Homo sapiens: one gene and its partners. The protein of the gene in region 5 purifies or fractionates together with the protein of the main gene of each other region. This does not show direct contact. Each region holds a gene or a part of one and is shown on either strand. Other genes may lie near its edges. The genes, in order: AIG1, PTPRF, DGKE, ATP2C1, SLC6A12, GALNT1 and DHRS7B.

Region 1 (3,500 bases), on a different chromosome or scaffold from region 5:
TTTATCAGTACCAAGGCAATATTCTACTTCCTCTGCCTATAAACAAAAATCCCACAGAAATTTTACATATAATGCAGTAACTAGGCTTTTTGAGCTTACCAAACCCTATTTTTTAGTCAATCTTTAAAACTAAGGGATATTGAATTAGAAGGGAAGGATTTGAAAGAGGCTAGCCAACTATATTTCAAAAGAATAAAAACCACTCTCTTTAAACTTTTAAGTTATTTGAAAATATTTTACACCAGTGAAATATAGAGAGAATAATACAATCAATTTCAGTATGCCAAATAACCAACTTAAGAAATAAAATATTATTTGTACAGTTGAAGCCCTGTGCAGATAATATTTCCTCCAATCTTATCCTTCTCTCTCTAGAGGTACCTTAATGCAATGTTATTAATTCCCATGCATTTCTTCATGTATTACTTCATATCCCTGCATCCTTAAATTTATCTTTGCATTTTTTTTTGAAATTGATTTTAATTGTCAGAATTCTTTCCTGGTTTCCTTTTTTTTTTTTTTTTTGGTTTAACATTTTGTTGTGAAAATAAAATGTTTATATTGGTTTAGATTTCCATTGTATGAATATAACACCATTATTTATCCAGTCAACTATTAAGAAACATAGTTATTTCAACTTTTTTGAAGCAATGAACACTCAAATTAACCTTTGGTAGATATGACTAGTACACATATATGAGAGTTTCTGCAGGAAATGCCCTTTATAATTATATCACGAAATAAATAGAGTATATGCATCTTTAAGTTACTATAGATGGTCCACAACTCAGAATTTTTGACTTATTATATTTCGACTTTATGCTGGTGTGAAAGTGATCGCATTCAATAGAAACCATACTTTGAGTACTCATGAAGCCATTCTGTTTTTCATGTTCAGCACAATATTTAATAAGTTACATGATATTTTCAACATTTTATCATAAAACAGGCTTTGTGTTAGATGATTTCTCCCAACTGCAGGCTAATGTGTGTGTTCTGAGCACATTTTAGATAGGCTAAGCTAAGCTATGCTATTCTATAGGTCGGGTGTATTAAATGCATTTCCAACTTAAGATATTTTCAGTTTACTATGAGTTTATAGGGACGTAGCTGCATCATAAGTTGAGGAGCATCTGTAGATATTGTCAGTTGTTTTTCAAAGCGGTTGTCCAGATTTGCATTCCTACCATAAGCTTTCTGGTTGTTCTACATCTTTGTAACACTTGGTATTGTAAGAATTAAATTGTAAATAATTACACTGGTGAGAAATGCTACCTCATTGTGGTCTTAGTTTGCATTTCCCTGGTTGTTAGTTACCTTTTTATGTTTACTAGCCAGATTAGCTAGTAATGAAGAATAATGAAGATTATTCTCCTCTGGTAGGGTCACTCCAGTTTAATCAAACTCCATTAGGGCCAACATAGAGATTCAAACATCTAAAGTCCTAGGATATGAAAAATAGAAAGATATGAATAGGAATATATGAAAAATAGAAAATAGAACATTTTTCTAAGTATGAAATTATTCCCTGAGTCATTTAAGTTATTTCTAGTTATCAAAACATGACTCTTGCCAACACTTTTATTGTGTCGTTCTCAATTGTGGCAGTCTTAGCTTCTTTTACTCTGGCTTTTCTGGCTGCAGAAAGAATGACAGTAAACCTTAAGTCACTGAAGCTAAAGACAGGCTACGTTATGAGGAAACAGAACATTACTCTGCCTAAGACTGACTAATAATAGTAAGATTTGATGAACTCCAAAAAGCCTAGGTTAACAATTTCTGTGTTCTAGTGCTATGCTAAGTGATGGAACTAAATACTTTTTAGGATCCTTCTTCCCTTGTGAGGACCCTATCCACAGAGCTTTCACAGACTCTTTCTACTGCCAATGAGGAAATTTACCAAAAAAGGTCCTTGCTATCTTTTCTAAAGAGGCAATGAGTAAAATTGTGTCTTTTACAAAGATATCATCTGTAAACTATTTTCAGTAGGAAAAAAGCCAGAAAAATTTTCCTGAATCTATCCTTGGTGCTAATTGGGTATGACTTTGTGTGCAGGGGATACATTTTCTGCCCTTTCCATAATTTGAATGATCATCTATCTAGCTGCATTACAGTATGCTGCCTGCAGTGTTCTCCTTTGCAATAGTCCAAGTAAATAAAACATAGCTGATCTAAATGCTTCCATTCATAATTGATTTGAGGAATGTATAACCTGTAGTTTTTTTGGGGGGGCGGTTAGAGAAATTGTATGGGTATCTCTGTTTATATTACTTTGGAAATATTTTATTTCATAAATACTAAAAACCTGAGTAGAAGGTCATTTAGTTCAAGTTTGACAACAGAAACTTGTTTCATATCAGCCTTAATTATTACATTCAGTCGATTTTTTTATGACTCAAGGACCCACTTCCTACCACTTCCTTTGATAGAAAAAATATCTAAATGTAAGAGATGAAAGCATAGGAAAGTTTTTCACATTTAGACTGAATTGTCTTGTTATTCAGACAGTCCTCACCCTTTTGTTTTCACTTCTTAGATATTTGTTAAAACTCACTAGTTATATTGACTAGTAGAAACCATAGATGTGATTTAGACATGACATAGAAGAAACCATGACAAACCATAGACATGATGCTTTAAAATAATGGCCCTGCTGGTTTGATCGTTGATACTTCTTTCTGATGGGCCCTATTTAGATGTGTGTGTGCATGCATGTTTTGCACTTGTCCCGAGGTGAGTGAAAATGGAAGTGGTGTTTTAAAGATGAACTTTCTGTATAAAAGCAAGTTGTAAATGTCTGTTCTCTATTTCTAGGAGCAGCTCTTTAAAATATGCTTCTGATCCTTTCTTATTAGATGTCATGTTGTACACCAGCAGCTCATTTGCTGTTCCACAGCTTGGGTCTCCAGATCTTAATGACTCATACCGGCTGTTGTCCCCCTACAGGTTATCCAGGCTGTCTTTTTTGGCATCTGTGTGCTGACTGATCTTTCCAGTCTTCTGACTCGAGGAAGTGGGAACCAGGAGCAAGAGAGGCAGCTCAAGAAGCTCATCTCTCTCCGGGACTGGATGTTAGCTGTGTTGGCCTTTCCTGTTGGGGTTGTGAGTATGATGGAGGATGCATTTAGCCACAAAAGAAACTTGGCTCTTATTTCAGACTTCTAAGAGAAAAAAAAAGAGTTCATTATAAGAGGTTTCTGTATTATTAGTTTGCTGGAGCTGTCAGTACCACAGATGCGGTGGCTTAAACAACAAACATTTATTTTCTCGTAGTTCTGGAGGCTGAAGTCTGAGATGCAGTTGTCCACAGGGTTCGTTTCTTCTGAGGCCTCTCTCCCCTTGGCTTGCAGACAGCGCCTTCTGACTGTGTCTTCACACACTCATCCCTCTGTGCCTGTCTTTGCCTAAACTTCCTATTTTTATAAGGTATAGCAGTCATATTAGATTAGGGCCCCCTAATGACCTCATTCAACCATATATAATCACCTCTTGAGAAACCC
Region 2 (3,500 bases), on a different chromosome or scaffold from region 5:
GGTCCTGATCTCCTTCTCGAACTCCTCACCCAAGCCAGCCCGGTTCTTGGCAGCAAGCCGGAAGATGTAGGTGGTCCCCTTGTGCAGGCCGGTGACTGTGAAGTGCTGGTCATCCTTGCCGAAATCTATGGTGTTGGGCCGCGCCTCGTCGGCCCGGCAGTACTGCAGCCGGTAGCCCAGCAGCTCGCCAGGCAGTTCCTTGGGTGGGTGCCACTGGAGCAGCGCAGTGTTCATGGCCGTGGTGCTGATCATCATGGTGGGCCGGCCTGGGACTGAAGGACCACGGGCTGGGCTCTGGCGCTGCCCTCCTGCTGCCCCACCCTCAGGTCCGTCCTGACCCCTCACTCACCTGCACCTGTTGTAGTGACAATTTTGGGCTTGCTGCGGGCACCATCCCCCTTGGTGGTATAGGCAGCAACAGTAACGGAGTAGGTGGTCTCCGGGGTCAGGCCGCTGATAGTGGTTTCCTGAGGGAGGAGGAGGGGTTCGTTCCCATCACAAGAATGCAGGGAGAGGCCAGACCTTGTCAGGGACCTCAGGACCCTAGCCTGAGGGGAGCCCCGGGGCACACAAGGCCAGGGGTTGTGGAAGGTGGGGCTATACAATGGTGGCCTCTGCTGGAGAGGAAGCAGGCAGGTAGGATGCAGGCCTGGGAGGACCCCGCCCATCCCAGGAGCCGCACGCCTGGGGCAGACAGCTCATTATTCTTTTCAGACAAGAACAAAGGGCCAGACTGTTTCCCTCACTCCACTGTGCTGTGAACGGAGACTGAGGATATCAACAGGGCACAGCCTCGCACGCACCCAGCACCTTGCGTGGCTCTTGGCAGCCACACGCACACAGCCTACAGCTCCTGCATAAGCAGGCGTAAGGCTGCCTGTGGACACCAGTGCATGCATGCACAGACAGAGCAAGGTGGCAGGATGGGCTAAGGTGCCATCCTATAGGACCCAGTCAGGACTCCGCTGCCCCCATATAGGCCACTAACTCTGTGAATGTCTATACCCTGCAATACCTCTTGAGAAAGGCAGGGGAGGGGCTAGGAGAATAAGAAAACCTCCACACCTGGGGAACTGGCTTCCACATCTGTTCTCAGTGATGCCTGAGACAGCAGCCAGGGCAATGTCCTCCCCGCTTGGCAGACCCTGCCCATATACCCATCTGCAGCAAAGGCATCATCTCTGGACATGCGGAGAAACACCATGGGAGGTCAAGCCACACCACACAGAGAGAAGAGTGGGAAGCAGGGCAGGGACCACCGTGCAGTGGGAACAGAGCCGTCATCAACCCTGGTATCCCTCCAGCTCTGGCCTTGAGTGGGGCCCCTGCAGCTGCCACCACCCCCTCATGGACCCCTCCTGCCACAGCTGGAGGGTCTCCCAGGGCTGGGGCTCCAGAATGCACCAATGCCAGAATCCGACTCTCCAGACAGCCCTCCCAGCCTGGGCCCTAAAGCAGGTGATTTTTCACTCCAGGGATCAATAAGGCCTAACGATCAGGATTGGATTTAACTCCATCCCTGTCTGGCCGGGGCAGGGGCCAGGCCCTGGTCGATCATGAACACTGGCCTCAAATTGCTGCTCGACAGGCAAGAAGTAAGGATTAGAGGAAATGCCAATCGCTGCTCAGCTCAGTGCTTGTGTCTAAACGCCAATTTTCTCCTGATGTGGCTAGAGCCCTGTGGATCTTGGCAGTGCAGGCTAGCAGGAAAGGAGGGAGAGGAGGAGCGTCCCACGAGCCCAGCTTGACCCATGTCTTGTCCGCGTTCGCACACCTGTTACTTACATAGTCCTCGGACTCCTCTGGCCGCCACTGACCGCGGGAGAGGGAGAGAAAGGGAGACAGGATGGTGAAGGACTCTGACCTGGAGAGGGCCTGGCCTGGAAGGGACCTTGCCCAGGGAGGACAGAGGGAGGGCTTTTGGGCCTCAAAGTACCCATGGGGGTAGCACCCCAGAACAACTCCCGGTTCAAAGATTTGAATCCCTGCCTCACTGAGCACCAACTGGGTGTGCCAGGGCTGAGGAGGGTAGGGAGACAGGGAGGGCAGGCAGCCTGCAGGGAGAGGACCCGCTGACAGAAGGCCCTAAGAACACAAAGCAGCTACAGATGCTCTGACAATTTTGGGCTTGCTGGGAGGGAGAGGCTGCCAGACAAGAAGGGTGGGTTCAACAGCTCAGGCCAAGGGAAAGGAAGACACTGAGGGGTGAATGGGGTGCCCATATGCCCTGGTTTGCCTCGGACAGTCCTGGCCTGTGCTTGTTGCCATGGAATTGACTATTCAGTGTCTCCTTCCACCCGCCAAAGCATCCCAGATGTGATCATACATTACACAATCACCCCAGGCATGAGAAGTGTCCCACAACAGTAAGAGTTGGGGGTGAACAGGGCACATGGCCAGGGTGGGCCCAAGGGCAAGCCAGTCAGCAAGACTATGAAGGCTGTGAGTGCCAAGCTCAGAGCCTGGGCTGTAGCCCACAGGCACGGGAAATCACCTATACCCGTTCCTTCCTCGGGGTGTCTGAGGATTAAGGTAGGAAGGAATGTTTCGGGGCTGGCAGTGTTGCGGGCCTTTGGTGCATGTAGATATTCTAGATGGACAGGTGGAGGGACTGTGAGGTCTCCATTCTGAGGCCCCATGAAACATCACAGGGAGATGGTCCAGGATGTCTCCAAGCCGGAAGTACCTGGGGTCCTCCAGCCCAAGCACCCCCACAGTGCCGGTCTGGCCTCTGTCCACTGGCCTCCATGCTGGGTGGCCTAAGTTCCTCCTGTCCTGGGACACTCTGTTGGAAAGTCCTTGCAAGAAGCATGGAACAGAATATGAGAGGAGACTCTGGACAGGTCCTTAGTGCATGGCCACTTTATAGGGTGTGGCTGGGCCCACGTCCCTTCCAGTCTCCTTGCCTGCGGGGAGACCTGGGCTGTCCCAACCAAGCCTTGGCGTGGAGGTTCTCACATCACATGGACCCTGTCCTGCGCTAGAGGCAGAGCAAGAAAGAAGGGAAGGACGGAGGATGAAACCAAATGGAGATGAAGGAAAGGGGTCAGAGGAATGGCAGGGGGAGGAGGGAAGGAAGGAGGAGAGAGAAGAGAAAGAGCAAGACAAAAACAGAGACTCCAAGAAGGAGAGAGAAATGCAGGCCACGAGAGGGGAAAAAGGGAGGCAGGGAGATGGAATCTGACGTAAAAGGAGACAGGTCTGGCTCCACACTTCCAGGCTGGGGGTGGGAACCTGCACCACATAGTTCCTTCAGGCATGATGGGGGATGAGCTGAGGGGATGGTGCTGTTGCGTGAAGGACAGAATGTGCCGCCCTTGACAGAAGCACAGGGACAGCTGGGCCCTGTGGCCACGCTCGGGACCAGGCCCCACTGCTCTCCCACTGGCGAGGAACAGAATGACCCAGTCCTGAGAGGGCTACGGAGCAGGCCTCCATCTTCAGTGTCCTCCGGGAGCCCAGACTCGAGTTACCGCCCCCATGATGGGATGTCTGAGACT
Region 3 (3,500 bases), on a different chromosome or scaffold from region 5:
CAGAATTTGGAACATAAAAAGTTTCTCTGAAATTCAAATTCAACTAGGCATTGCCGTTTTTTTGTTTTTTTTTTCTGGCAACCCTAGCCCAACCCCAGACCTACTAAATCAGAAACTTGGGCTGGACATCAGCAGTCTTGGTTTTAACAGGCCCTACAGGTCCTTCTAAAGATGGAGAACCACTGCTATATTTACATATCTTTAAAAACATGCACCTCCGTCTCTTAATTTTGTATCCTCCCATTGAGCACACTGAATCTGTGTGATAATAAATCTTCTTTTCTTCATTAGTGCATTTTTACAGAGTAACCCCTTACCCCATGATAGAAATTGTCTCTGTGTAATTTAGGAGATGTTTATTATTCCCAAGAGAAGAGACCACAGTGTCCTGAAGTTGTACATATTCTACAGTGTTCTGAACTGATTTATGTTGGCCAATAATTGTATACAGGATTACAGTCTCCTGTGACCTTCTGTAGGAATGAGATATTTTGGAAGGAGAAACAAAATAAATAGCTACTTAGAACCTTTAAACACAGACCAGACAGTCCTCTGGATTTTATCTAGCCCTGAGGAGAGCTCCTTCCCTGTCTGCATCTCATTCTTAGGGAAGTGAGTGAACTCTGCAGACAAGTTACATTTCAAAGGACACTAATGAGAGATGATGACTGAGTTTAAAGCCTGCAGAATAAGTGAGAAAGGCCCTTTAATTTATACTCATTCGATCATTATACTTATTGAGCATCTATTTTTGTTCTAGACACTGCTAGAGTCTACTTTGTCTGTAGATTTTTTCTTTTTGTGTGCTCCTGTTTCTACCCCCAACCACTACATCTTCTTTTTCTTCTTCTTATCTCTCCTCTGACTAAAATAGGGAATTAGGTTATATTTTTACATATTCAATATATTTATTAAATGAACCTTTGTTTCTTGTAGTGTTCTATCTCATTAAGAGAAAAAGAACTTAAAGTGCTTTTTAATTTATTGGACTTTTTATTCATTACATCTACCCCACGCCTCACACACAATTACTGTGATTAGTAAAACAAAGCTGCTGACTCTCAGAAGGCAGTTAGATTGGCCTCAGTGTAACTAGTCTCAGCTTTGATCATAAATTTTGTTTCTATATTCTATTGGTGTGTGTTTATTCATTTCATTAATTATCTGAAACAGTGAAAGATACCAAATCATCTTCTAGAGCAGAGGTGGGCAAACTTACTGTAAAGAGCCAAAAGAATTTTCGGCTTTCCCAACCATTTCGTCTGTCATAATTACTTAACTCTGCCATAGTTGCAGTGCAAAACCAGCCATGGACAATACATAAATGAATGAGCTTACCTGTGTTCCAGTAAAACTTCATTCACAAAATCAGATGGCAGACATATTTGCAGTTTGCAGAACCCTGTTCTAGTGAATCTTATAAATGACCATCTCAACTTTATGTATAATTCAGCTGCCTCCTTCAGCACACTAAAAAAGAGAGCTATTGTGACCAGGTAATTTTTTAGAGAAAACAAGCCTTGTTAAACCTTTTTTTTTTCTATAAATACTACTGCACAAGAACGGCATATAAATTCATGAGGCATTCCATATTTTCATATGAAGGAACTTTCTAGAGTAATGTTCTATATCTTGATAAGGGTTTTAGTTACGTATGTTCATTTATCAAAACTCAGGAAGTATATACGTACATTTCATTGTATGTAAATTTTACATGAAAAGGAAAAAACATCATGAATTCTAGGTAGTGATAAGCCTATTTGCTGATGTATTCAGGAAGTATTCTGATGTCTTCAGTTTACTTGGAAATGTACTAAAAATAAGATGAATTAATGGATAGAAATGTGACAAAGCAATTACAGTAAGATGTTAATGGTAGAATGTAGGTGGTAGGCATACCTGTAAAAAATATTTTTAAGTAAAATATTTTAAAAAGCAAGTAAACTATTCTTGCTTTTAGAATATATTTGCTAAAATATTGAAGGGTGAGATCTCATACTGTCTGCAGTTTACTTTCAAATGATCAAAAAAATATGAATTTATATGGAAAGAGAATATTGTGGGAGAAAATGTCATTAAGAATCAGCGTGAAGGGTGGGCTTAGGGTATTCATTTTGCTATCCTTTTGACTTCTCTGAAAGTTTGGAATTTTTCAAAATAAAAAGAAAAAAGATGATAAGCTGTTACCCAATGACATGATGCTAAAGCTGAAATACCAAGACATTTTAGTAATGTCTTATCTTCCCAGTGAGTTTGAAATCTAGGTTGTTAAATACCAATTACAACATAGGTAAAGACAATAGGATTCAGGTTTGAATATGGTATTTCTAAAGAAGAATGTAATACTGAGTAATTAGTAAGCATTTTATTTTATTTTGTTTTTTGAGACAGGGTCTTACTCTATATTGCCTAGGCTGGAAGACGGTGGCAAGATTATGGCTTACTGCAGCCTTAGCCTCCCAGGTTCAAGCAATCCTCCCACCTCAGCCTTCCAAGTAGCTGGGACTACAGACATGCACCACCATGCCTGATATTTTTTTTTTCTTTTTTGTAGAGATAGGAGTATCACCATATTGCCCAGGCTGGTCTCAAATTCCTGGGCTCAAGCAATCCTCGCATCTTGGCCTCCCAAAGTGCTGGGATTGCAGGCGTAAGCCACCATGCCTGGCCCTAGTAAGCATTTTAGCTGTACCTTTATAGAGCAAAGGCTCATAATAGCTATTATCTTGGTTAAAATAATCTTTTCTGGGCTGAGCGCAGTGGCTCATGCCTGTAATCCCAGCACTTTGGGAGGCCAAGGCGGGCAGAGTTCGAGACCAGCCTGACCAATATGGAGAAACCCCATCTCTACTAAAAGTACAAAATTAGCCGAGTGTGGTGGCGCATGCCTGTAATCCCAGCTACTCGGGAGGCTGAGGCAGGAGAATTGCTTGAACCCAGGAGGCGGAGGTTGCTGTGAGCCGAGATCGCGCCATTGCACTCCAGTCTGGGCAACAAGAGCGAAACTCCATCTCAAAAAATAATAGTAATAATAATAATCTTTTCTGAAATTTATGAGAATTTAATAAATGATAAGTGTTCTGTCACAAATTATTGGGGGTAGAAAAGATGGTTTTATGAATCGTGTTAGGACAAGTGCTCTTGGGGGAGGGGAGAAGGTTAACTCTTCATAATACGCCAGATTTATTATGGGTAGATTAATGCAGTAGTTTGTTTTGTTGTTGTTGTTGTTGTTGTTGTTTTTTGAGACAGTCTCACTCTGTCGCTCAGGTTGCAGTGCAGTGACATGATCTCGGCTCACTGCTACCTCTACCTCCCAGGCTCAAGTGATTCACCCGCCTCAGCCTCCCGAGTAGCTGGGATTACAGGCATGCACCACCACACCTGGCCAATTATTTTTTATATTTTCAGGAGAGACAGGGTTTCACCATGTTACTCAGGCTGGTCTCAAACTTCTGACCTCAGGTGATCCGCCCGCCTGGCCTCCCAAATCCTGGGAT
Region 4 (3,500 bases), on a different chromosome or scaffold from region 5:
GTACCACTAAGAAAAATGAGCTTAGAGGAAGGTGAAGAAGATAATCATGGCTGGGCAGGGTACCTCATGCCTGTAATGCCAGCACTTTGGGAGGCTGAGGTGGATGGATCACTTGAGCCCAGGAGTTCGAAACCAGCCTAGGCAACATGTCAAAACCCATCTCTCCAAACAATACAAAAAAAATAGCTGGGAGTGGTGATGTGAGCCTGTGGTCTCAGCTACTCTAGAGGCTGAGCTGGAGGATTGCTTGAGCCAAGAAGGTCGAGGCTGCAGGTAAGTCAAGGTTGTGCCACTGCGCTCCAGCCTGGGAAGCAGGGCAAGACCCTGTCTCAAAAAAAAAAAAAAAAGATAATCATTTTATGTATTATGAATGTGAAGTATTTTCTCTTGTGTGAAGAGACAATGCATGATTTTAATGTTGAAGTATCTTCTTCAGAATAAGAATTTTAATATTGTGACAAATTAGTTCAGGTAGAGCTTAGGCTTGACTTTAATTCTTTGCTAAAATAAATGTTTCCATATTGATACATGTGTTGTATTAGTTGGAATTTTATTTTATTTATTTGTTTGTTTGTTTGAGTCAGTCTCACTTTGTTGCCAAGGCTGGAGTGCAGTGGTGTGATCTTGGCTCACTGCAACCTCCGCCTCCCGGGTTTAAGCGATTCTCCTGCCTCAGCCTCCCGAGTAGCTGGGATTACAGGCATGCGCCACCACACCCGGCTAATTTTTGTATTTTTAGTAGAGACGGAGTTTCGCTGCACCATGGTGGCCAGGCTGGTCCGAACTCGTGACCCCAGGTGATCTGCCAGTTTCGGCCTCCCAGTGTGCTGGGATTACAGGCATGAGCCACAGTGCCCGGTTGGAAATTTATTTTCAAAATTAGCTCTACAGTGTTTTAGTATAGATACATTTTTGTATGATAATATTTTCTCACTTCATCTTTATTTTTTAAATTTCAGGTCTGCAATCGAAGAGGGTAAAGGGATTTATAATAACATTAAAAATTTCGTTAGATTCCAGCTGAGCACGTAAGTTTGCAAGAAATTTGTCACCATGGGTCTTCTGGATAAATTATATGAAAAGTAGAACTTAAGCAGAATGCCTAGAAACTTCTCTGCCTTATATTTGTGAGCATTGTTCATATGTCAGTTTTCCAAAAAGAAAATTTATTGTATTCTGAAATTTTAAATGGCATGATAAATAGGTTGTAAATGTAACAGTTAGATGTCTGTATCATCAAAATGTATAAATCTTTGTGATTTATTTAATAGCTCACATCTCATTGTTTCCTCTTGGTATCTTTTTCCAAAAGTAGAAGGGGTATTGTGTAGTCAAAGAACAGTTACCAAAATATTGTTGAAACTATCATGCAGATGTAAAAATTCTTTATTTGTTCCTGTTGTCTAAACATCTTGAAAATCCTTTGTTAAAATACTCTTAGCTTTAAAATGTCCACGTGACTGAAGAATAGTTTACTTGAAACAGTCTTCCTTTAAAAGCATAGTAGTAAGAGATTTTTAAATGCTAAAAAAGTGGTATCATAGAATCAACAGATTTACTCTACTGATATTTTTAAATGACTCTCTTTTTCAACAGGAGTATAGCAGCATTAACTTTAATCTCATTGGCTACATTAATGAACTTTCCTAATCCTCTCAATGCCATGCAGATTTTGTGGATCAATATTATTATGGATGGACCCCCAGCTCAGAGGTACGAGTTTTTTAATTGCATGAGCTGGAAAGACAAGGAATGTGTACTACCCTGATAATTAAGTTTTAAAACTTGATTTATGGACAGTGTTGGAAAACTTTGCAGCAAATGTTTTAACATTTATGTTATAAATTGTGTGATGTGTGTATTTTATTAATTCTTTTTGAGTGTGCATGCAGTGTAGATCTGAGCCTTTCCACTGTTAGATGCCTAGCCTAAGGTTGAGAATAGATCAGGAATAGGTGCTATCCCTGTCCTCAGGAAGTAAGTAAGCCTTTTATTTCTAAGAAATGGGTATAATGGAGAAATTTCTGGGTTCAGTTTTATTATCTAGGTTCTACTGTCAGTTTTAGAGACTTTGGGAAAGTATTAGAGGACCTGAGTGTCATAACTTTTTTAAAAAATTTAATAATAATGGGGTAGTTGAGTGATAGATGTCATTTGGCCACTCCAGCAAATCATCCCAGTTAAAACCTCTTTATATGAAAGATATTTCAAAATTCAGTCGGTAGGTCATGTATTTCACACCGTATTTGAAATAGGTAAACTTACATGTAAATGAATTGGATGGTTTTTTGAAAGTTGATTATCTATCCCCTATCAAATTGTGCCAAACAAATAAAGAGGAGAGAAAAAGTGACAAAATCAGTGGTTATTTTTGCGTAATCAGCCAGCGTTTTATGATGCAACATTTTGTTTCTATAAGAAAGCATTTAGTTTGCCGAATAATTGAGGTTAGTGAGGTTGTGAAAGTAACAAATCCAGACCTTAAAACTTGAAAGTAATTTATTTTTCTGTTTGTTTTTAAGCCTTGGAGTAGAACCAGTGGATAAAGATGTCATTCGTAAACCTCCTCGCAACTGGAAAGACAGCATTTTGACTAAAAACTTGATACTTAAAATACTTGTTTCATCAATAATCATTGTTTGTGGGACTTTGTTTGTCTTCTGGCGTGAGGTATATTCACTGGCCAAGCTGCTATATTAACATGAATTCTGTATATCTGATAGGATTCTTAGTTATTTTGATGGGTTACCCAGAAGGCTGGGAAGTTAAGGGAGCTCTTTTAGTGAAAAATATAAGAACATTTTAAAAGAGTTTGATTTCCATCTTTATGGATAAATAAAATTATTGATTCATGTATTAGAATAAATCTGCAGAGAAGTATCAGTTACAATAAAAATACATGAAAATTTAGAGAGAAGTTGGAAAATCTGAGTCTTAAAATCATAGAGCCACTTTATTATTTTTAAATAATAACAGTATTTTAATATCTAATACATAGTTCATGAGAAGTTTTTTTTTTACTTTTTATTATGTAGATTACAGCTATTCACTAGGTGATTTATAGGAAATTTAGGTAGCTTTTATGTTTCATGTGTTAGGCTAAAGTTATTTCTTCCTAATGGAAAGAAAATGTTTATATTTTTTAAAAAGCAGCGATTTATCCATTAAATTCAGCCACTGAAAAGTAATTTTGTTATTGCCTCTTGACAGCTACGAGACAATGTGATTACACCTCGAGACACAACAATGACCTTCACATGCTTTGTGTTTTTTGACATGTTCAATGCACTAAGTTCCAGATCCCAGGTATGTTTAGGTGAACTTAGTTGATTGACTTGATTGACTCACTTGAGTAGAGTGCTTTCTAATAAGTAGGCAAAGATTATGGGTTTTTAGCTTTGCTTAATTTTGTAGCCACAGATTGCAGCCCCAGACACAGCCTTCTTATAAACATGTGCCATTGGTCACAATGAGGATGGGGCATTTGTGGGAGGTAAGCT
Region 5 (3,500 bases):
GCAGTCGTGTAAATGTCCCGCTCAGCTGGGTCCTATGCGTAGGTCCAAGCACGCTCACGGACAGCACATGCAGGGCTGGCCTCTCTGGAACACACAGACGGCTTATGCGGGTGCCACGGTCAGGGTGAGCAAACGGAGCACTGGAATGCGAGAGGAGAGAGGTCGTGGCTCTTTCCTTCTTTTCCAAGTCAAAGAGGCGGCAGGGCCTGGCATCTCAGCGGGAAGCGCGTGCACCGCGCTGTGCTGGTGGGAGGTCCGGGCTGCCCTCCCCGCCCTCTGCCGGCCTCTCCGCCCGCCGCACTCCCCTCTCCCGGAGCTGCCGTACTGGCTCGAGGCGCGCCCCCGCGCGCCCCCGCGCTCCCCCGCGAGCCCCTTCTCCACCCAGCGCCGCCCCGGCCCCTCTCCCAGACAGCCCCACCAGAACGCCGGCCCCCGGCTCGGCCATCCCGGGTCCGCTTAGTTCACCGGGCTGACCCGGGGCTGCCGGACGGGCCGGACGGCCGCGAGCACAGCGCGTTCCGCCGCGGCACAGGGGCCGCTTGTTTGTGTGTTTTTTGGGTGTCTGTGTGCGCGCTCTCAACGCCCCGCCCGCTCCCCGCGGACCCTCTGCCGTCTGCGGGTCCCTCCCGCGCAGCGCCACGCCCACCCCCGCGGCGGACGCCCGGGCCGCCCCAACGCCGCTGCGCGGTGGAGACCGCGGTGGAACCCGTCCTTGCCAGGGTGGGCTCGCCGGGCCCCAAAGGAGAGGTTTTGTTCATAGTCAGCATTGATTTTTCAGCCAGGCTGTTCTGAAAGGTCCACAGTCCTTCGTTAAGTAGTGAGCACTTCGGGAGGCTGAGGCAGGAGGATCGCCTGAGCCCGGGAGTTCGAGACCAGCCTGGGCAGCATAGCGAGACCCTCCCCTTCTCCCGTCTCTACAAAAAAAAAGTTAAAATTAGCCGGGTCTGTCTGTGGTCCCAGCTACTCCGGAGGCTGAGGTGGGAGGATCGCTTGAACCCGGGAAGTGGAGGTTCCAGTGAGCCGAGACTGTGCCACTGCACTCCAGCCTGGACAACAGAACAAGACTCCATCTCAAAAAAAAAAAAAAAAAAAAAAAAAGAAAAGAAAAAAGAAAGAAAAATATGCTATGAATGGCTTCTCATGCCACTGGATAAACCCCAATGGTGCTCTTTGTGTAGCACCCAATACCCTTGTAACCTCAACTGGCAGCTTCTATGTGACTTTTTTGCTAACATTGATCTCTCTTGTCCCTCCCCATCTCTCCCCCACTCTGGAAGGCATTGGTCTGGCATCTGTGGTCATCGAGTCATATTTGAATGTCTACTACATCATCATCCTTGCCTGGGCTCTCTTCTACCTGTTCAGCTCCTTCACTTCTGAGCTGCCCTGGACGACCTGCAACAACTTTTGGAACACAGGTATCCATCATTTCAGCCCCTGGGATGTTGCCTGTTAGGGGCTGGGCTGCGGTGGCTGGTGAATCCAAGCAACGACGGGGAGTATAAGTGTAGCAGAACCTGCCTGGCAGCCAAGCCACGTGGGCTCCTGGGCAGCTCTGCTCCTTGGCTCCTCTGAGGCCCTCAGGCCAGCCACTCGGACGAGTCAGTGTGGTTGGGAGAACCCAGAGGGACTGTATTAAATGACTGCAAGGGTTATTGCCACTTACTCATTTGTGCGCTTAACAAGCACTTACTGGACACCTACTGTGTGTTAAACACGGTGCCAAGGGCTGGAGATTGGTACGAGGCTGAGCAAAAGCAGCAGGGACCCAGCCTTCACTGTGTTTACAGTCTGGTGGTAAGAACAGACAAATAAACACAACCACTACAAATTGTGATAGGTGAACGAAACTGCAGAAACCATAGAACAAGGGGAGGGAGAAGTGTCATCTGAGGCCTGAAGTGAGAGAGAGCCCAGCATGGGGGCAGCATTCCAAGCAGGGGGAAGAGCAGGTGCAGGGCCGCAGTCCCTTGGCCTGCCAAGTGGAGAGACAGGAAGTCAGAACGGGCAAGCGGGGAGAGTGCATTCCGTACCAGCCGCCCATGAGGGGACTGAGTAGATCTGAAGTCTGGATACTGTCTGAGGTTGGCAGGGCAGCCAGGTGAGCAGGCAGATTCACAGGGAACAAGAGCAGGGGGAGGAAGAGCTGGCCCTATGAGCCTCCTGATGCCCTGGAGAGTGGGGGCTCCAAAAGAAGCTCTTGGGGCTAGGAGTGGTGAGGACCACTAGGCTGCAAGGCCAGAGGGCCAGGGGGACTAGGGTATAAGAGCATCTCTCTCCATCTTGTCCCTAACCTTGTCCCCAACAGAGCATTGCACGGACTTTCTGAACCACTCAGGAGCCGGCACAGTGACCCCATTTGAGAATTTTACCTCACCTGTCATGGAATTCTGGGAGTAGGTGCTGGGCCCATTTGCCACATATGAAGAGGAAATTTGGATGTCTGAGCTGTGCAAGTCTGAATGTCTGGGGTGCAAGTTTAAGATTCTGTGTGTGCTTTCCAGCACTTCCTCCCCCGCCCCACTCCAACCCCACACATCACTGAGGCAGGGGAGAACGCTCTCACATCTACCCACACGGGTCCACGGAGACTCACATTTATCCGTCATGTCCACCTTCAGCCCCACATCCCTACCTCCATGCGTGTGTCTGCCCACACATGTCCAGTGGGGTGCTGGACAGAGTCTTCACAGCTTTAGGGGAGCTGAGTGTGCATGTCTCTTCCCACTGCCATGCTCGGTGGTGTCATGCCAGTAGCTTGAAATTGCCCAAGGCGGGAGTGCTCACATCAAGACATGGGCACACCCTCCACTCACACACTCACCCTCTCACCTGACAACGTACCCCTTCACATTACGTGTGCCCACACTCGTCCACCTGCATTCCCACGCAAGACTGCCTGTACTCTCTCACACTGAGCTAACCCCCACGTAGGCACCAATGCCCTCACACCTGAATGCCCTCACAGTACTGGACCCTCACACCCATGCATGCAGTTCCAGCACCCCATCACATGTTTAGAAACTAACACACTCAGCCCCTGCACGGGATACCCATGCACTTGCCCATCAACCTGCATGTATAAATATCTACTCTCTAAACGCTCATTTATACATTCCTCATCTCTCTCTCTCTCCATCTTTCTGTACGAGAAAAAAAATCTGGATGAGTTAGAAAGATAAAGATATGCATAGGATGATGGTAGTAGTTTGGTCTACGGGAACATGGCCTGACTGTGGGGGAGGTGGGGAGTGGGGGAAGCCCTGGAATATGAGATCCGTGGGGTCAGCTCTGAGAATCAGGAGACTTGCTGACAGACGCAAACTGTCCCCTTTAGCCTTTCCCCTCATTACTTATTTTTCCCAATCCTCCAGGAGACGAGTTCTGGGCATCACCTCGGGCATCCATGACCTGGGCTCCCTGCGCTGGGAGCTGGCCCTGTGCCTCCTGCTCGCCTGGGTCATCTGCTATTTCTGCATCTGGAAGGGGGTCAAGTCCAC
Region 6 (3,500 bases), on a different chromosome or scaffold from region 5:
AAAGAGTATTCTGGGCACAGGGAAGAACAAGTATAAAGGTTTCTAAGATGACAATGTACTTAGCGCGTTCCAGAAACAGCAGGGAGACCAGTTGTCTGGAATAGAGTGAACAAGGTGGAGAGTAGTAGAAGATAAGGTCAAAGACAAAGTGAGGGTCAAATCATATAAAGCTTTTAGGTTATAGTGAGAACTTTGCATTTTGCATTTTATTCTGAATCAAATGGAAGCTATCGAAAGATACCAGCAAACTTCCACTAGAAAAGGATCACATTGTATGCTATGTGGAGAAAAACTATATGGAAACAGGAGTAGAGCTGGTGTATTGTTGAAGAGAGTAAAGGATTATGTCTGGTTTCTATCAAGCTTGAGACACTGACTGTAAAGTTGCCATTACTGAGATGGGAAAACCTACAGGAAGAGCAGATGCTCAAGGGAATCAACAGTAGTTTGGGACACATCAAATTTGAGATCCAAGTGAAGATATGAATAGGTCTTTACATTTAAGAATATTCACTTTGGGGGAGAGGTTGTGATAGAGATGTTAACTTAGGTTGTCAGCATATAGGATGGTTTTTAAAGCCACAAAACTGTATGAGGTCACCTGAGGAGGAGAAAATGTTAAGTATGAGAGAGAAGACCGAGGACAATGCCAGAGGGAATGCCACAGTTTAGAAATCATGGAGATGAGAAGGAATCAGCAAAAAAGATTGAGAAGGAGTAGGCAGTGAAATAGGAGAACCTAGAGAGTGGTGTCGCCAAGACTAAGGGAAAGACGTGTTTCAGGAAAGAGGAAGTGATCAGCTGTATCGAATACTGCAGAGAAATTGAGGAAGATGAGTACTTAGAATTGGTTATTGCATTTGGCTAGGGACATGTTATCAGTAGCCTATCTCACAGTGTTGAGAGAGTTCCCCATGGATGTTGTTAAAAACTCTGTTTTGAAGAGAGAATGGAAGAAGCAACATAGATGAATGTGTACAAGTCTTGCAAGGAATTTTCTTGTAAAAGAGAGAAGATAAATAGGTGGTAGCTGGAGGAGAATATGGGCTTAAAGGGGTTTTTATTTCTTTATTAAGATAAAACTGTGCTGATATGAGCAACCCAAAAGAGAAAATTTAAAGATGCAAAAGAAAGAGCCAACTTAACACCCATTAGAATGGCCACTATCAAAAAAACAGAGAATGACACATGTTGGCAAGGATACTGAAAAATTGGAACCCTTGTGCATTGTTGGTGTGAATGTAAAATGGTACAACTGCTATTTAAAAATAGTATGGAGGTTTCTCAAAAAATGCTCAAAAAAGAGAACTACGATATTATCCAGCAATTCCACCTCAGGGTATGTATCCAAAGGAAATGAACGCAGGGTCTGAAGAGTTACTTTTACTTACATGTTTATAACAGCACTATTCACAATAGCCAAGAAGTAGAAGCACTCCACGTGTCCGTTCATTCTGGCCCAGCTAGCAATGCTTAGGCATTGTCCAAAATTGGGTCAGTTCAAAGTAAAAAACTCCTCCTTCTTGGTTCTAAAGACAAGCTACAGAGTGACTGCTATAAATCGTGATACAACGTACAATGGAATATTTTTCAGTCTTAAAAAGGAAGGAAATTCTGATACATGCTACAACATGGATGAACCTTGAGGACCTTATGTTAAGCATAATACGACAGTCACCAAAAGAGAAATGCTGTATGATTCTCCTTATATAAGGCAGCTAGAATAGTCAAACTCATAGAAACAGAAAGTAGAATGGTGGTTACCAGGGCTGAGGGAAGGGCCTAAAGAAGAGTTACTTCATGGGCATAGAGTTTCACATTTGCAAGATGAAAAAGTTCTGGAGATTTGTTTCACAACAGCCTGAATATACTTAACACTACTAAACTGTACACTTGAAAACAGTTTAGATGGTAAATTTTATGTTATGTGTTTCTGCACCAGAATAAAAAGAAAGAAGGGATCTGTTGTTATGGGTGTCATGTATTTGGGTGGATAGGAGGTGAAATCTGTACACAAGTAGAGGGTGTTGGGTGGGGGTGGGAAGAAGAGAGGTCATCTCTTATCATGGGGAGGAAGGTAGAGGAATGGGAACAAGTGCAGGGCAGCTGTAGGTTTGGAGGTGGAAACTGGCAGTTTGTGGTGGAAGTGTGAGGACCTTCTCTTCTGGTGGCTTGTTTCCTCAGTTGAACACAAGATTATGGGCTGAGAGTGAAGAAGGTGTTGGTGAGGGGGAATTGGGGAAAGAGAAAAGGATGTAAAATAGAAATGTAAGATAAGGGAAAGCAAGTAGATCACTGAAGGAAGCCAGATGGTGGAGAGTTGGTGAAGCCATCTGGCCTGGTGTTTTCTTCAGTGCCAGGGCAGGCACAGACTTACGCATTTATCCTAACAGTTACTAAGGCTACTTCAGGATTGACTTGAGCTCCCTACCTCTGAACCTTGTTGTGATTTAAGGAATTTGTTTTCAAACAAGTGAGGGCTACATTGAGTTTCTTGAGCCTTTCATTCTCACTGATGCCTCATTAATGGGAATGTGTTTTCCTTTGCTGTGACCTCGTACTGGTCAAAGAAGGCCCAGGGTGAGTGGTGCGCCAGGGAAAGATTTCTAGCAGTCACTCTGCAGCTTGTCTTTAGAACCAAAAATGAGGAGTTTTTTGTTTTTGTTTTGTTTTTTTTGAGCTGACCCAATTTTGGACAATGCCTAGGCATTGTTAGCTGGGCCAGAGTTCGGGCGTGTGACAAAGAAACACTTGTCTGCTCCATGGTAGATGACTGCCAAGGCAAGCTTGCGTCTTACCTGCCTCTTGCCAGCTGGCTTCTGGGCAAGTCGCAGCGTTTACCCTCTGTGGCCTGCTTGTTATCGCCTTATTAACTTAACAGCTGGCCTTAAGCCTTGTACGCCCTTAATACCAGGCCACATCCTACAGGTTAAAAGTGTCATTTCTAGATTGGAGGTCATTCTTAAGAGTACCCACCATAGTGCAGCCCAGGGATCTTATGCTTCTGATCACAGCTTCACCCATGTGAGCCTTCCTTTGCTAGCAACAGTAATTTAGCCTTTCATAGATCTCTTCTCATGCTTCAAGGGTCCAGGGAAACCTGAAATCATAGGATTTTTCAGCAGAAAGGGAAATCAGAAAATGTAAATATGACTAGGGTAATAGATATAATTTAGGGCATCTGGCTTCAGCTAACGCTGACGTTCGTAGTTCCTGTAGGACCTGAACAAATGTGTTTCATTGTGGTATCTGATAGTTGTTAACTCAGGAGCTGAGTATTCTAAACAACAAAAAGTAAACAATCTAGACCTTTACTGGTTTAGTCAGTTTTAGGGGCTGACCAATTGCTTTTCCAGGCAGATCTAATAATCCTAACATTTACTGAGCATGTACTTTATGTCAAGCACAAATCTGAATGCTTGATGAATATTAAAGCACAACACTATAGGATTGTGCTGTTATTTCCACTTCACAGATAAGTAAACTGAGACACAAATAAA
Region 7 (2,978 bases), on a different chromosome or scaffold from region 5:
AGGCATGAGCCACCGCGCCCAGCTGGAGTTCTTTATACTAAATTATTTTCAAGTTTTACTTTGATTTATAATAATACCACTGATTTTTGTTGTCTGGCCTGCTGACTGCAGTAAGGCATACAATGGTTGGTCTCCGTATTCAGTTTTATAATGACCAGGCTGAATATGGAGTGCCTCTTGGGCAAGTTGGTTAACTCAGATAAGTAGTGGCCTTCTCACCTATAAAATGAGGAGAACGGCATTTTCTCTGTCACACTGCTAAAGTAAAGACCAAGTCACGTGGTCCACAGTGTCCTTAGTACTGGGCCTCACACTGGCAGGGTAAGTGATGTGGCCAGCGGCGAGGTCAGCACAGCCTGGCTGAGAACTCACAGCCTGAGAGCTCTGGGGAGACCCAGCTGTCAGAGTGTAGCCTTCTGTTTTGGGGACTTACATGATAACCCACTCTTCCCTGTCCCCAAGCCTGGGCTGTACTCTTGGAATCATGGCTGATAGGAGCAGTCCTCTCCATCCACCCACAGCCAACTCATCCAGCCCCCAGCAACTGTGCCCCAAACCAATGGAGCAGGCCCAGCAAGGCACTGCAGCAAGCTCAGACACTGCTGAACTGCCTCATGTGACTTGCTGCGACACTTCCTTTCTTTCTGTCTTCCTGTTTCCTTAGCTGACGGATGCCCCTTCTTTCCTAAGGCTAAAACATTTACAATTCTGAATTGGAGGAAACTGATTTACTGTGGAGACGCTGGTGTGTTTCCCAGGAATGTCATTATAGGGTCACTGTGTTCCCATTCAGAGCACCTTTTACCGGGTTGTGAAGCCCTTGCTCGAGAGCAGGCACAGCTCTGTTTCTTGCAGGTGGAGTAAGCTCTATAGCTCTTCTAGATGAAAAGCCACTGCCTGGACATTTGTCAAAATGAGACATAAGAAGGCAGGTTTGGATTTTTTACACCCATGAAGGCCCACTGATGGGGCCAATTCTGTCACTTGGTAACTCACTGGGGAGGACTAGGCAGCCACAGCTACATGGCAGGTCTGCAGGGCCAGCATGGGAGCTGTCCAACCTGCCACCAGGTGAAGAAAGCTACTTGCAGGAACAGTAGAATAGGTAAGAGTTCATTTCTGTATTAAAAGATATATATATATATATATAAAATATATAAAATGTGTAAAATCACATGAATATACGTAGAATATATTTTTAAAAAATCACTGGGCATGGCTGCTTACTCCTGTAATCCCACCAGCACTTTGGGAGGGTGAAGTGGGAGGATTGCTTGAGGCCAGGAAGTCGAGGCTGCAAGGAGCTATGATCCTATGATCATAGCTCTACTCCAGCCTGGGTAACAGAGAAGATGCCTTCTCTAAAAAAACAAAACAGAAGGCCGGGTGCGGTGGCTCACGCCTGTAATCCCAGCACTCTGGGAGGCTGAGGTCGGTGCATCACGAGGTCAGTAGATCCAGACCATCCTGGCTAACATAGTGAAACCCCGTCTCTACTAAAAAATACAAAAAAGTAGCCGGGCGTGGTGGCGGGTGCCTGTAGTCCCAGCTACTCGGGAGGCTGAGGGAGAAGAACGGTGTGAACCCGGGAGGCGGAGTTTGCAGTGAGCCAAGATCGTGCCACTGCACTCCAGCACTCCCGCCTGGGTGGCAGAGCGAGACTCTGTCTCAAAAAAAAAAAAAAAAAGGAAAAAAAAGAAAACCAAAATAGAATTAAACAAAAATTCTGGGAAACTGTTAGCACTGATTATCTCTAGGAATGGAATTTGGAAGACAGGAGGACTTTCTTTTTTTGTACTTTCTGTCCTTTAATGTACTATTTGAATGTTTTACCCAGTAGTCATTCAGTTTTTTTTGTTTTTAACTTTTATTTATTTATTTATTTATTTATTTATTTATTTTTGAGATGGAGTCTCGCTCTGTCGCCCAGGCTGGAGTGCAGTGGCGCGATCTCCGCTCACTGCAAGCTCCACCTCCTGGGTTCACACCATTCTCCTGCCTCAGCCTCCCGTGTAGCTGGGACTACAGGCACCCGCCACCAAGCCTGGCTAATTTTTTTTGTATATTTAGTAGAGACGGGGTTTCATCGTGTTAGCTAGGATGGTCTCGATCTCCTGACCTCGTGATCCGCTCACCTTGGCCTCCCAAAGTGCTGGGATTACAGGTGTGAGCCACCGCGCCCAGCTTAACTTTTAACTTGGAATAACTTCAGACTTAAAGTTGCAGGAACAGCACAAATTACTCCCATGCACCCTTCATGCAGATTCCCTGTTAACCTTTTACCTTATTTCCTTTATCTTATTCTCTCTCTCTGTGTATATGCATATATACCGTTTATAATATATATAAAACTATATGTGTATATAATTTATAATTTTTTTCCTGAACCATTTGAAAGGAAACTGGAGACATGATGCTCATTTATTCCTATTTCAGTTTGTTTCCTAAGAACAAGGGCACAGTACACTTCTCAAAGTCAGGAAATGAACATTGTTATAATACTGTAATCTTAAATAATAAAACCAGGTTTTAAAGCTGGGCACAGTGGCCCACGCTTGCAGTCCCAGCTGAGGCAGGAGGATCACTTGAGCTCAGGAGCTGGAGTCCAGCCTAAGCAACATAGCAAGACGATCACAAATAAAACCAGGTTTTCAAAACAGAGAGCGTGAATGGTAGTGAATAGTTGGGCACCAGGCCATGCCCACCCCAGCGCACTCAGTCACCTGCCTCTCCGTCCACATGTGTAGATGCAGCCTCCAAGCACGCAACCCAGGCTTTCTTTGACTGTCTGCGTGCCGAGATGGAACAGTATGAAATTGAGGTGACCGTCATCAGCCCCGGCTACATCCACACCAACCTCTCTGTAAATGCCATCACCGCGGATGGATCTAGGTATGGAGGTGAGGCCCGGTTTCTCTTTTCTCCTATGAAAATCTGTCGGTCAGCCACAGTGAGACATGCTGCTCTTACTTCAGTGA

The links.
Region 1: the proteins of SLC6A12 (region 5) and AIG1 purify together in Homo sapiens (affinity purification with mass spectrometry; one large-scale study listed by BioGRID and IntAct). This does not show direct contact.
Region 2: the proteins of SLC6A12 (region 5) and PTPRF purify together in Homo sapiens (affinity purification with mass spectrometry; one large-scale study listed by BioGRID and IntAct). This does not show direct contact.
Region 3: the proteins of SLC6A12 (region 5) and DGKE purify together in Homo sapiens (affinity purification with mass spectrometry; one large-scale study listed by BioGRID and IntAct). This does not show direct contact.
Region 4: the proteins of SLC6A12 (region 5) and ATP2C1 purify together in Homo sapiens (affinity purification with mass spectrometry; one large-scale study listed by BioGRID and IntAct). This does not show direct contact.
Region 6: the proteins of SLC6A12 (region 5) and GALNT1 purify together in Homo sapiens (affinity purification with mass spectrometry; one large-scale study listed by BioGRID and IntAct). This does not show direct contact.
Region 7: the proteins of SLC6A12 (region 5) and DHRS7B purify together in Homo sapiens (affinity purification with mass spectrometry; one large-scale study listed by BioGRID and IntAct). This does not show direct contact.

What each region holds. Positions count from the first base shown.
Region 1 is NC_000006.12:143,133,889-143,137,388, forward strand, and holds part of AIG1 (androgen-induced gene 1 protein), read left to right. Parts: intron 1-1,317; exon of another isoform or gene 1,318-1,444; intron 1,445-2,946; coding exon 2,947-3,102; intron 3,103-3,500. UniProt on the Homo sapiens protein: Hydrolyzes bioactive fatty-acid esters of hydroxy-fatty acids (FAHFAs), but not other major classes of lipids. Show a preference for FAHFAs with branching distal from the carboxylate head group of the lipids.
Region 2 is NC_000001.11:43,600,383-43,603,882, reverse strand, and holds part of PTPRF (receptor-type tyrosine-protein phosphatase F isoform 1 precursor), read right to left. Parts: intron 1,813-3,500; coding exon 1,786-1,812; intron 468-1,785; coding exon 350-467; intron 273-349; coding exon 1-272. UniProt on the Homo sapiens protein: Possible cell adhesion receptor. It possesses an intrinsic protein tyrosine phosphatase activity (PTPase) and dephosphorylates EPHA2 regulating its activity.
Region 3 is NC_000017.11:56,837,151-56,840,650, forward strand, and holds part of DGKE (diacylglycerol kinase epsilon), read left to right. Parts: exon of another isoform or gene 1-1,470; intron 1,471-3,500. UniProt on the Homo sapiens protein: Membrane-bound diacylglycerol kinase that converts diacylglycerol/DAG into phosphatidic acid/phosphatidate/PA and regulates the respective levels of these two bioactive lipids.
Region 4 is NC_000003.12:130,995,084-130,998,583, forward strand, and holds part of ATP2C1 (calcium-transporting ATPase type 2C member 1), read left to right. Parts: intron 1-959; coding exon 960-1,028; intron 1,029-1,596; coding exon 1,597-1,713; intron 1,714-2,522; coding exon 2,523-2,670; intron 2,671-3,210; coding exon 3,211-3,306; intron 3,307-3,500. UniProt on the Homo sapiens protein: ATP-driven pump that supplies the Golgi apparatus with Ca(2+) and Mn(2+) ions, both essential cofactors for processing and trafficking of newly synthesized proteins in the secretory pathway.
Region 5 is NC_000012.12:200,658-204,157, reverse strand, and holds part of SLC6A12 (sodium- and chloride-dependent betaine transporter), read left to right. Parts: exon of another isoform or gene 1-140; intron 141-406; exon of another isoform or gene 407-720; intron 721-1,277; coding exon 1,278-1,418; intron 1,419-2,308; coding exon 2,309-2,396; intron 2,397-3,374; coding exon 3,375-3,500. UniProt on the Homo sapiens protein: Transporter that mediates cellular uptake of betaine and GABA in a sodium- and chloride-dependent process.
Region 6 is NC_000018.10:35,693,240-35,696,739, forward strand, and holds part of GALNT1 (polypeptide N-acetylgalactosaminyltransferase 1), read left to right. Parts: intron 1-2,976; exon of another isoform or gene 2,977-3,100; intron 3,101-3,500. UniProt on the Homo sapiens protein: Catalyzes the initial reaction in O-linked oligosaccharide biosynthesis, the transfer of an N-acetyl-D-galactosamine residue to a serine or threonine residue on the protein receptor.
Region 7 is NC_000017.11:21,185,964-21,188,941, forward strand, and holds part of DHRS7B (dehydrogenase/reductase SDR family member 7B), read left to right. Parts: intron 1-2,747; coding exon 2,748-2,900; intron 2,901-2,978.